Linked DNA regions of Homo sapiens. The protein of the gene in region 1 interacts with the protein of each later gene in a pairwise test. Each region holds a gene or a part of one and is shown on either strand. Other genes may lie near its edges.

Region 1 (3,749 bases):
ATTCTCAGCCTCCCTAGTAGCTGGGATTACAGGTGCCCACCATTACACCTGGCTAATTTTTGTATTTTTAGTAGAGACAGGGTTTCACCACGTTGTCCAGGCTGGTCTTGAATTCCTGACCTCATGTGATCTGCCTGTCTTGGCCTCCCGAAGTGCTGGGATTACAGGTGTGAGCCACCGTGCCTGGCCAGAAATTTATGTGTTTTTCATTTACAGCACATCTCAATTTGGACCAGTCCCATTTCTTTTTCTTTTTTCTTTTTTTTTTTTTGAGACGGTCTGTTGCTCAGGCTGGAGTGTAGTGGCGAGATCTTGGCTCACTGCAACCTCCGCCTCCCGGGTTCAAGCAATTCTTCTGCCTCAGCCTCCTGATTAGCTGGGACTACAGGTGTGTACCACCACGCCCGGCTAATTTTTGTATTTTTAGTAGCGATGAGGTTTCACCATATCTGCCAGGCTGGTCTCGAACTCCTCACCTCGTGATCTGCCCCCCTCGGCCTCCCAAGGTGCTAGGATTACAGGTGTGAGCCATCGTTCCCGGCCTGGACCAGCCCCATTTCAAGGGCTCAGTGGCCCCATTGGAGCCACTAGACACGATTCTGGACGTCAGGCAGAGACCAATGTAGTTCCCCTGTCCATAGGGCGGAGCAAAGTGTGGAGGGGGGCCGGGCGGGGTGGCTCAGGCCTGTAATCCTAGCACTTTGGGAGGCTGAGGCGGGAGGATCACCTGAGGTCAGGAGTTCAAGACCAGCCTGGCCAACCATGGGGAAACCCCGTCTCTACTAAAAAAAATACAAAAATTAGTCGGGCGTGGTGGCGGGTGCCTGTAATCTCATCTACTTGGGAGGCTGAGGCATGAGAATCGCTTGAACCCGGGAGGCGGAGGTTGCGTGAGCCGTCATTGCGCCACTGCACTCCAGCTGGGGGACAGAACGAGATTGTTTCAAAAACAAAACAAAACAGAAAAACAAAGTGGGGCGGGGCTTTCATTAAAAACGGCAGTGAAGCCACCCCAGAATGGGGCTGGGGCTCAAGGTTCTTGCAGGTTGGGGGTTCCCAAATGGGGAGCTTTTCGCGACTCCGTTTCGCCTTTCCTTCCCTCCCACTCAAGAGTCTCCTCCCATAGTGACCTCCTCGCCAACCAGACTCCGCAGCCCGCGACCCCAGCCCCTAGCCCTCTCCTGCTGTTCCCGGTGTACCCCGGGGGCCGCCCACCTCAGAATTTACCCCTTCGGCGCCGCCTGTCATGTGGATGCTGCCTTGCCTGTCACTCAACTTCTTACCCCGCCCCCGCGTCTGGCCTAACCGTCGCTTACCTTGGTTTCCACAGCGACGCCATCAGGGGGCGTGGCAAAGGGACGCGCGGGGCAGAGACCTCCTTTGGATTGGTGGATGGTCAAGCCCCTTCTCTTTAGCCCCTCCTACAGGCGTTCCGCCCCCTTCGATTGGTCTCGCAAGTTGATTGGTCAATCCCCTGGTGCTAGTCCTAGTCTTGGTTCGGACCGGCCCCAAGGAGCAGGGGCGAACGTGGGCGCCTCGTGCCCTGATTGGCCGACGGGGCGCGCGCGGCCTGGAGGGGCGGGGCGGACGCAGAGCCGCGTTTAGTCTATCGCTGCGGTTGCGAGCGCTGTAGGGAGCCTGTGCTGTGCCGCGCAGTTAGGCAGCAGCAGCCGCGGAGCAGTAGCCGCCGTGGGAGGGAGCCATGAAGCATTACGAGGTAAGAAGCGAGAAACAGGGGCCGTGTGGCCACTGCTGACCCATTCTTTTTCCTTCTTTGCGGGACCACGGGACCCCACTTTCTGGTCCTGTGCCCCGAAGGAAGAGCCAGACGGCGCAGGCGCAGTGGGCAAGCGTTGCGCCCCGGGCCACTCGTAAATTCCAATGCGCATGTGCGCAGGAAGTATTTATAAATCTGCAACCCAGGCTGTTTTGGGGGTACTTTTTCTTGGGGGTCTCTGCAGGGGCTGGGACGCTTGCAGGTTCCTTGCAGCTCCCCCAGCGGGCTGAGTTGCAGACTTTGTCATGGGAGCCACGAAGGTGCGGGACCCTTGCTCCCAATCCGAGGGAGTCTTGCACAAATCTTGCGCCACGCCGCCGTCACCAGCGTAGGAAGGGGCTTTGCTATCAGTATTCTTGTGTACGACCTTTGGACCCCTTCCCTCGCCCGGGACGTTCCCGGGAGACTTAGGCGGTGAGGGAGGTGCAGCTCCACGGCTGGCTTTCGCAGAGCAGCGAAGCTGATCTTGCTTTCTGGTTATCAAAGAGGTCATCTACGTCAACCCTTGGGTGTCACCAAGGAGAAATCTTATACCCACCCACAGCCACTCTTGAAGCCCAAGTCTTCTGACTCCTAACTTGGGTCTCTTTTTCCCTTAAAACGAAGTCTTCTGATGTGCTTATCGCCCTAGGTGATAATATAATATTAATAATTCAACCAATTATCCCTGAATTATTGCTGACTTTTAAGTAACTATCATCAAATAATAAAATTTGTTATTAAAATTCAAAATAACAATTTAGCAAGTGCTTACTCTTGTGCTGGTGAGATTCTGTTACCTTGTATAAGAACTATTATTATTCCTGTTTGTAAGGATGAATAAAGTCTCAGAGATATAAAGTGACTTGTTCAAAGGCCCCTAGTTAGTAAATGCAAAACAGATAGGGGAACTCAGGACGCCAAGGTCTTAGTTCCTAGCCACTATGCCATGCTGGTCCTCAAATGAAAAATAGCAGGTCGAGCGATTTCTTGTTTCTCACTTCCCCTCCAATTTAAAAAATTCTGGCAAAATACACATAAAATTTACCATCTTGACTATTTTTAAGTGTGCAGTTCAGTGGCATTAAGAACATTCACATTGTTGTGCAACCATCACCACCACCCATCTCCAGAACTCTTTGCATCTTGGAAAACAGAAGCTGTAGACGTTAAATACTAACTCCCCATTCCTCTCCACCTCCACCTCTGGCAGCCACCATTCTACTCAGCCACCATTCCGTCTTAATGAATTGACTACTCTAGGTACCTTGGATACGTAGAAGGATTTTTTTTTTCTTTTGGAGACAGAGTTTCGGTCTTATTGCCCGGGCTGGAGTGCAATGGCGCGATCTCGGCCTACTGCAAACTCCGCCTCCTGGGTTTAAGCGATTCTCCTGCCTCAGCCTCCTGAATAGCTGGGATTACAGGTGACCGCCACCATGCCCGGCTAATTTTTTGTATTTTTAGTAGAGATGGGGGTTTCACCATGTTGACCAGGCTGGCCTCAAACTCTTGACCTCAAGTGATTTGCCCTCCTCGGCCTCCCAAAGTACTGGGATTACAGGTGTGAGCTAGTGCGCCCGGCTGTTTGTTTTTATTGACAAGTTGAATATTACTACCTCTGCCTCCTGCCCCCTTTATTGCTACTATTTTTGGAAATTTACCCACAATCCTTTGAAGCCTTTTTTTGAGACGGAGTTTCGCTCTTGTTGAGTACGCTGGAGTGCAATGGCGTGATCTTGGCTCACCGCAACCTCCACCTCCCGGGTTCAAGTGATTCTCCTGCCCCAGCCTCCTGAGTAGCCGGAATTACAGTCATGAGCCACCATGCCCGGCTAATTTTGTATTTTTAGTAGAGACAGGGTTTCTCCATGTTGGTCAGGCTGGTCTCGAACTCCCGACCTCAGGTGATCCACCCACCTTGGCCTCCCAGAGTGCTGGGATTACAGGCATGAGCCACGGTGCCTAGCCCCTTAGAAGCCTTTAACCCACA
Region 2 (3,749 bases), on another chromosome or scaffold:
ACTTTTCAGTTCACTAGGTTGATTTTCTTAAAACTGAATGGAGAAGTGAACTGATTAGGTTGCTGGTGTCTGTATAATGTGTGTATCTTTGTTGCAGGTTTGTTTTTTATTCTGCCATGCACTGACAGCTTCATCAAAGTGGACATGAGAACTATTTCATTTGATATTCCTCCTCAGGAGGTAAGGTTTTCTTTGAATAACTGAGGTATCATATGTGAAAGTGCTTTACAATGAGGGACAGAATAGTTAGAGTGTAGGCTTTATTTATTTATTTATTTTAAATTTTTGTTTGTTTGTTTGTTTGTTTTAATTGGAATCTTGCTCTGTCACCCAGGCTGAAGTGCAGTAGTGTGATCTCAGCTCACTGCAACCTCCGCCGCCTGGGTTCAAGTGATTCTCGTGCCTCAGCCTCCCGAGTAGCTGAGACTATAGATGTGCGCCACCACGCCCGGCTAATTTTTTTGTATTTTTAGTAGACACGGGATTTTGCCATGTTGGCCAGGCTGGTCTCGAACTCCTGACCTCAGGTGATCCGTTCTGGCCTCCTAAAGTGCTGGGATTACAGGCATGAGCCACCGTTCCCTGCCAGAGCACAGGCTTTAGACCTTGACTGCCTTCAGCATTTCTAGCTCAGTGACCTTAAGCAAGTTCTTTAACTTTTCTGTGCCTCAGTTTCCTCATCCAGAAAATAGACATTTGTAATAGTAAGAACTACTGTATAAGGTGGTTCTGAGAAGTGAGATATATGTGCCAAGTGCTTAGAGCAATGGCTGACAAATAGTAAGTGCTATATAAGTTCTTACTGTTACTATTACAGTTGGCCCTTTGCATGCATGGGTTTTGCATACAGGGATTCAGCCAACCGCAGACTGAAAATATTAGGAAAAAACTCCACAAAGTTCCAAAAAGCAAAACTTGAATTTGCCATGCATCAAGCATGGCATTGAATCCACATGAATAAAGTGATGTGTAGGTATTGTATTGGATAATAGAAGTAATCTAGAGATGATTTAAAGTGTACAGGAAAATGTACATAGATTATACGGTTGGCTCCATGGATCAAAAATATTTAGGGAAAAAAGCAATTGACAATGATACAATAATACAAATTTTTAAAAACGGTGTAGTATAGCAACTATTTATGTAGTATTTACATTGTGTTAAGTATTATAAGTACTTCAGAAAGGATTTAATGTATAAAGGAGGATGTGCATAAGTTATATGCAAATATTGTGCCACTGTATATAAGAGACTTGAGCATCCTTGGATTTTGGTATCCTCTGAGGGTCCTAGAATCAATCTCCCACAGATACCGAGGAATGATTATTACAAAACATAGTGTAATGCTAATGTAAGTATAATAATATCATCATTGTTATTACTATCAACATTTTTACTACCACATTTCTCTTCTATGGGTTTCTGATAGAAAACCCTATTAGTTCATTATTTTTTTTCTTAAGGTTTTATTCTAGATAAATTGGTTAGAAACCAAAGAATTAGAAACTGCTTGTTGGGCATTTTAGATAAAACATAATATTTTATACTAGTGATTATTTTGTGCCTTTTCAAACTACTTCACAAGTATTATCATAGATGAAACTCATGGCAGAATCCCTAGAAAGTATATAGTTGCAGTGAAACAAAGGAATTCCTCCAGATTACAGTGGCAGAGCCAAGACTAAAATTGAGCTCTTCGGATTCTTTGTATAGTGCTGTTTTTTCCACAGCTCCATGCTAAATGCATTGTACATGAGCTCCCTCATAGCCCCCGAAAAAGTGATGGCCATCCTGGGAACCATGTCCTTAGGAGACTTAATAACCGTTGCATACAGAAAACCTGAAAACATCATGAAGGGGGAAGGACAGAAGAATGCTGTCAGTGTTTCCTGGCCAAAGGCCAGATACTCAGCATGGTGATGGAGCCTGGCCATGTTGCCTTCTCATGTCACAAATACCAGAAACCAGCTTAGGAACTTCCTTGTTGGTACTGATCCAAGAAGTGGGTGGGGTCAGACTTTATAATCCACCCAAAGTTAGTGATGCCAGGAATCATTTTGCCCACATTTTACTCATAAGAACAAGACTGAGAGTATCACTGTATTCTCTGTGTGTTTTCCCATCGTCTAAGGAAGATTGAGTCTCAGAAGGAGCCCTTCAGGGTAGCTGGACATTCTGGCATTTTCCACTATAAACATTACAGACATCTGGCAGAGTTGCTGTTTAAGCTTCTGCTTTCCAGTGGCCCTCTCCTATTCTGCAAGCTGCTGAATGCAAAGCAGATTGGAACTTGGCAGCAATCCTTTTTCTGATCCCCTGTGAAGTTTCTGTGAAGGGAGATAAACCCTTGCCGATGATAAACAGTAGGCAGAGAAGCTGTAGCTTTAGAAAGAAGCTGTGGCAAAGTCAAAGTGGCAAGAATTTGGGAATGACACACATTTTCCCATCATGTCATGGGAAATAATTAGTTTTCATACAAGATGGTAATACACTGTACATTTATTTATAAATCCTCCACTTCTCTTCCATGTTAGAAGTATTTTGAGATTACTAAAAAAGGATCACTGCTTTGATGTCTGGCAGGGCTAAACAGCCATGTTACAACATTGTTATTATTACCTTCCATTTTCATAGCTGTTTACTCTTTCAAAAGGGCTTCATTCACAAGTATGTTCTTATTTGATCTTCACAGAAATTTGGATAGAATTAGGCAGTATTATTAGCGCCATCTCACAAATGAGGAATCTGTTGGTCAAATGGGTTAAAAACCTTGCTAGAGGCCATCCAGGGACCTGAAGGCAGAGATGGGACTCAGTTCAGGTCTCCTAACTCTCACTGCTGTGTTCCTCATCGGTCACTGTTCTCAGGACCACATTTCAGTTCAGCTCCTCTCTCATTTATTGACTACCCGCTATGTTTCAAGCACTCTGCCAGTGTTAGAGTTACAAAGAATTGCCCTGAAGAAATTCATAGTCTAAGAGAGAAGTAGAAATGTGAATAAATAATGTCACTACAGTAAGGTGCAGTGGATGTGCAAGGGAAGAGTGCTTAACTCTGCCAAGTAAGCCAAGAAAGTTTCACAGAGAGAAGGACATTTAAATGATCAGTAGAAAGGTGCCAGCCTGATGTTGTTAGTGAGAGAGGCTGGAATTCCCAGGCTGGAGCAATCTTCCTGCCTCAGCCTCCTGAGTGGCTGAAACTACAGGTGTATGCCATCATGCCCAGCTGGCTTGTTTATTATTATCTAAATTAACTTATTACAGTTAATCAAGTCAGTGTTTTATTCAGTAAAGTTACCACCATTATCCAAGATGAAATAATAAGACAGCTCTTACGTGCCAGGAACTTTTCTGAGCACTTGAATGTATTTAACGCATTAATTCTAGCAAGAATGCAAAGTAGGTACTATAATTAATCTCTACTTTACAAATGAGAAAACTGAGTCCCAGTGAGTTTTAAGTGATGGATGTAACTATTTTCCTGGAGCCTCTCACTCAGATAACTTCTTAGCTTAAAACAAAAATATGTCATGTTTAGCATTTTTATGTAGCATGCTGTAAAATATGTTTTGATGCTGACCTTGCCCTTTAAAAACATTCCCCATGCACTTTTTGTTCCAGTAATATTGTGGAACTTGTAGTTTATCAAACCTTGACTCTCTAGTGCCTCTCTCTTGAATATTCTTCCACTCCACCCAACACCCTCAGAAAAATTGTATTCCTTTCTTCAAGATTCAATTCAGGTATCAC

The links.
Region 2: the proteins of TECR (region 1) and STOM interact in binary tests that used the Homo sapiens proteins (3 or more experiments, as listed by UniProt).

What each region holds. Positions count from the first base shown.
Region 1 is NC_000019.10:14,527,995-14,531,743, forward strand, and holds the start of TECR (very-long-chain enoyl-CoA reductase), read left to right. Parts: upstream 1-1,599; 5' UTR 1,600-1,702; coding exon 1,703-1,717; intron 1,718-3,749. UniProt on the Homo sapiens protein: Involved in both the production of very long-chain fatty acids for sphingolipid synthesis and the degradation of the sphingosine moiety in sphingolipids through the sphingosine 1-phosphate metabolic pathway.
Region 2 is NC_000009.12:121,349,651-121,353,399, reverse strand, and holds part of STOM (stomatin), read left to right. Parts: intron 1-97; coding exon 98-180; intron 181-3,749. UniProt on the Homo sapiens protein: Regulates ion channel activity and transmembrane ion transport. Regulates ASIC2 and ASIC3 channel activity.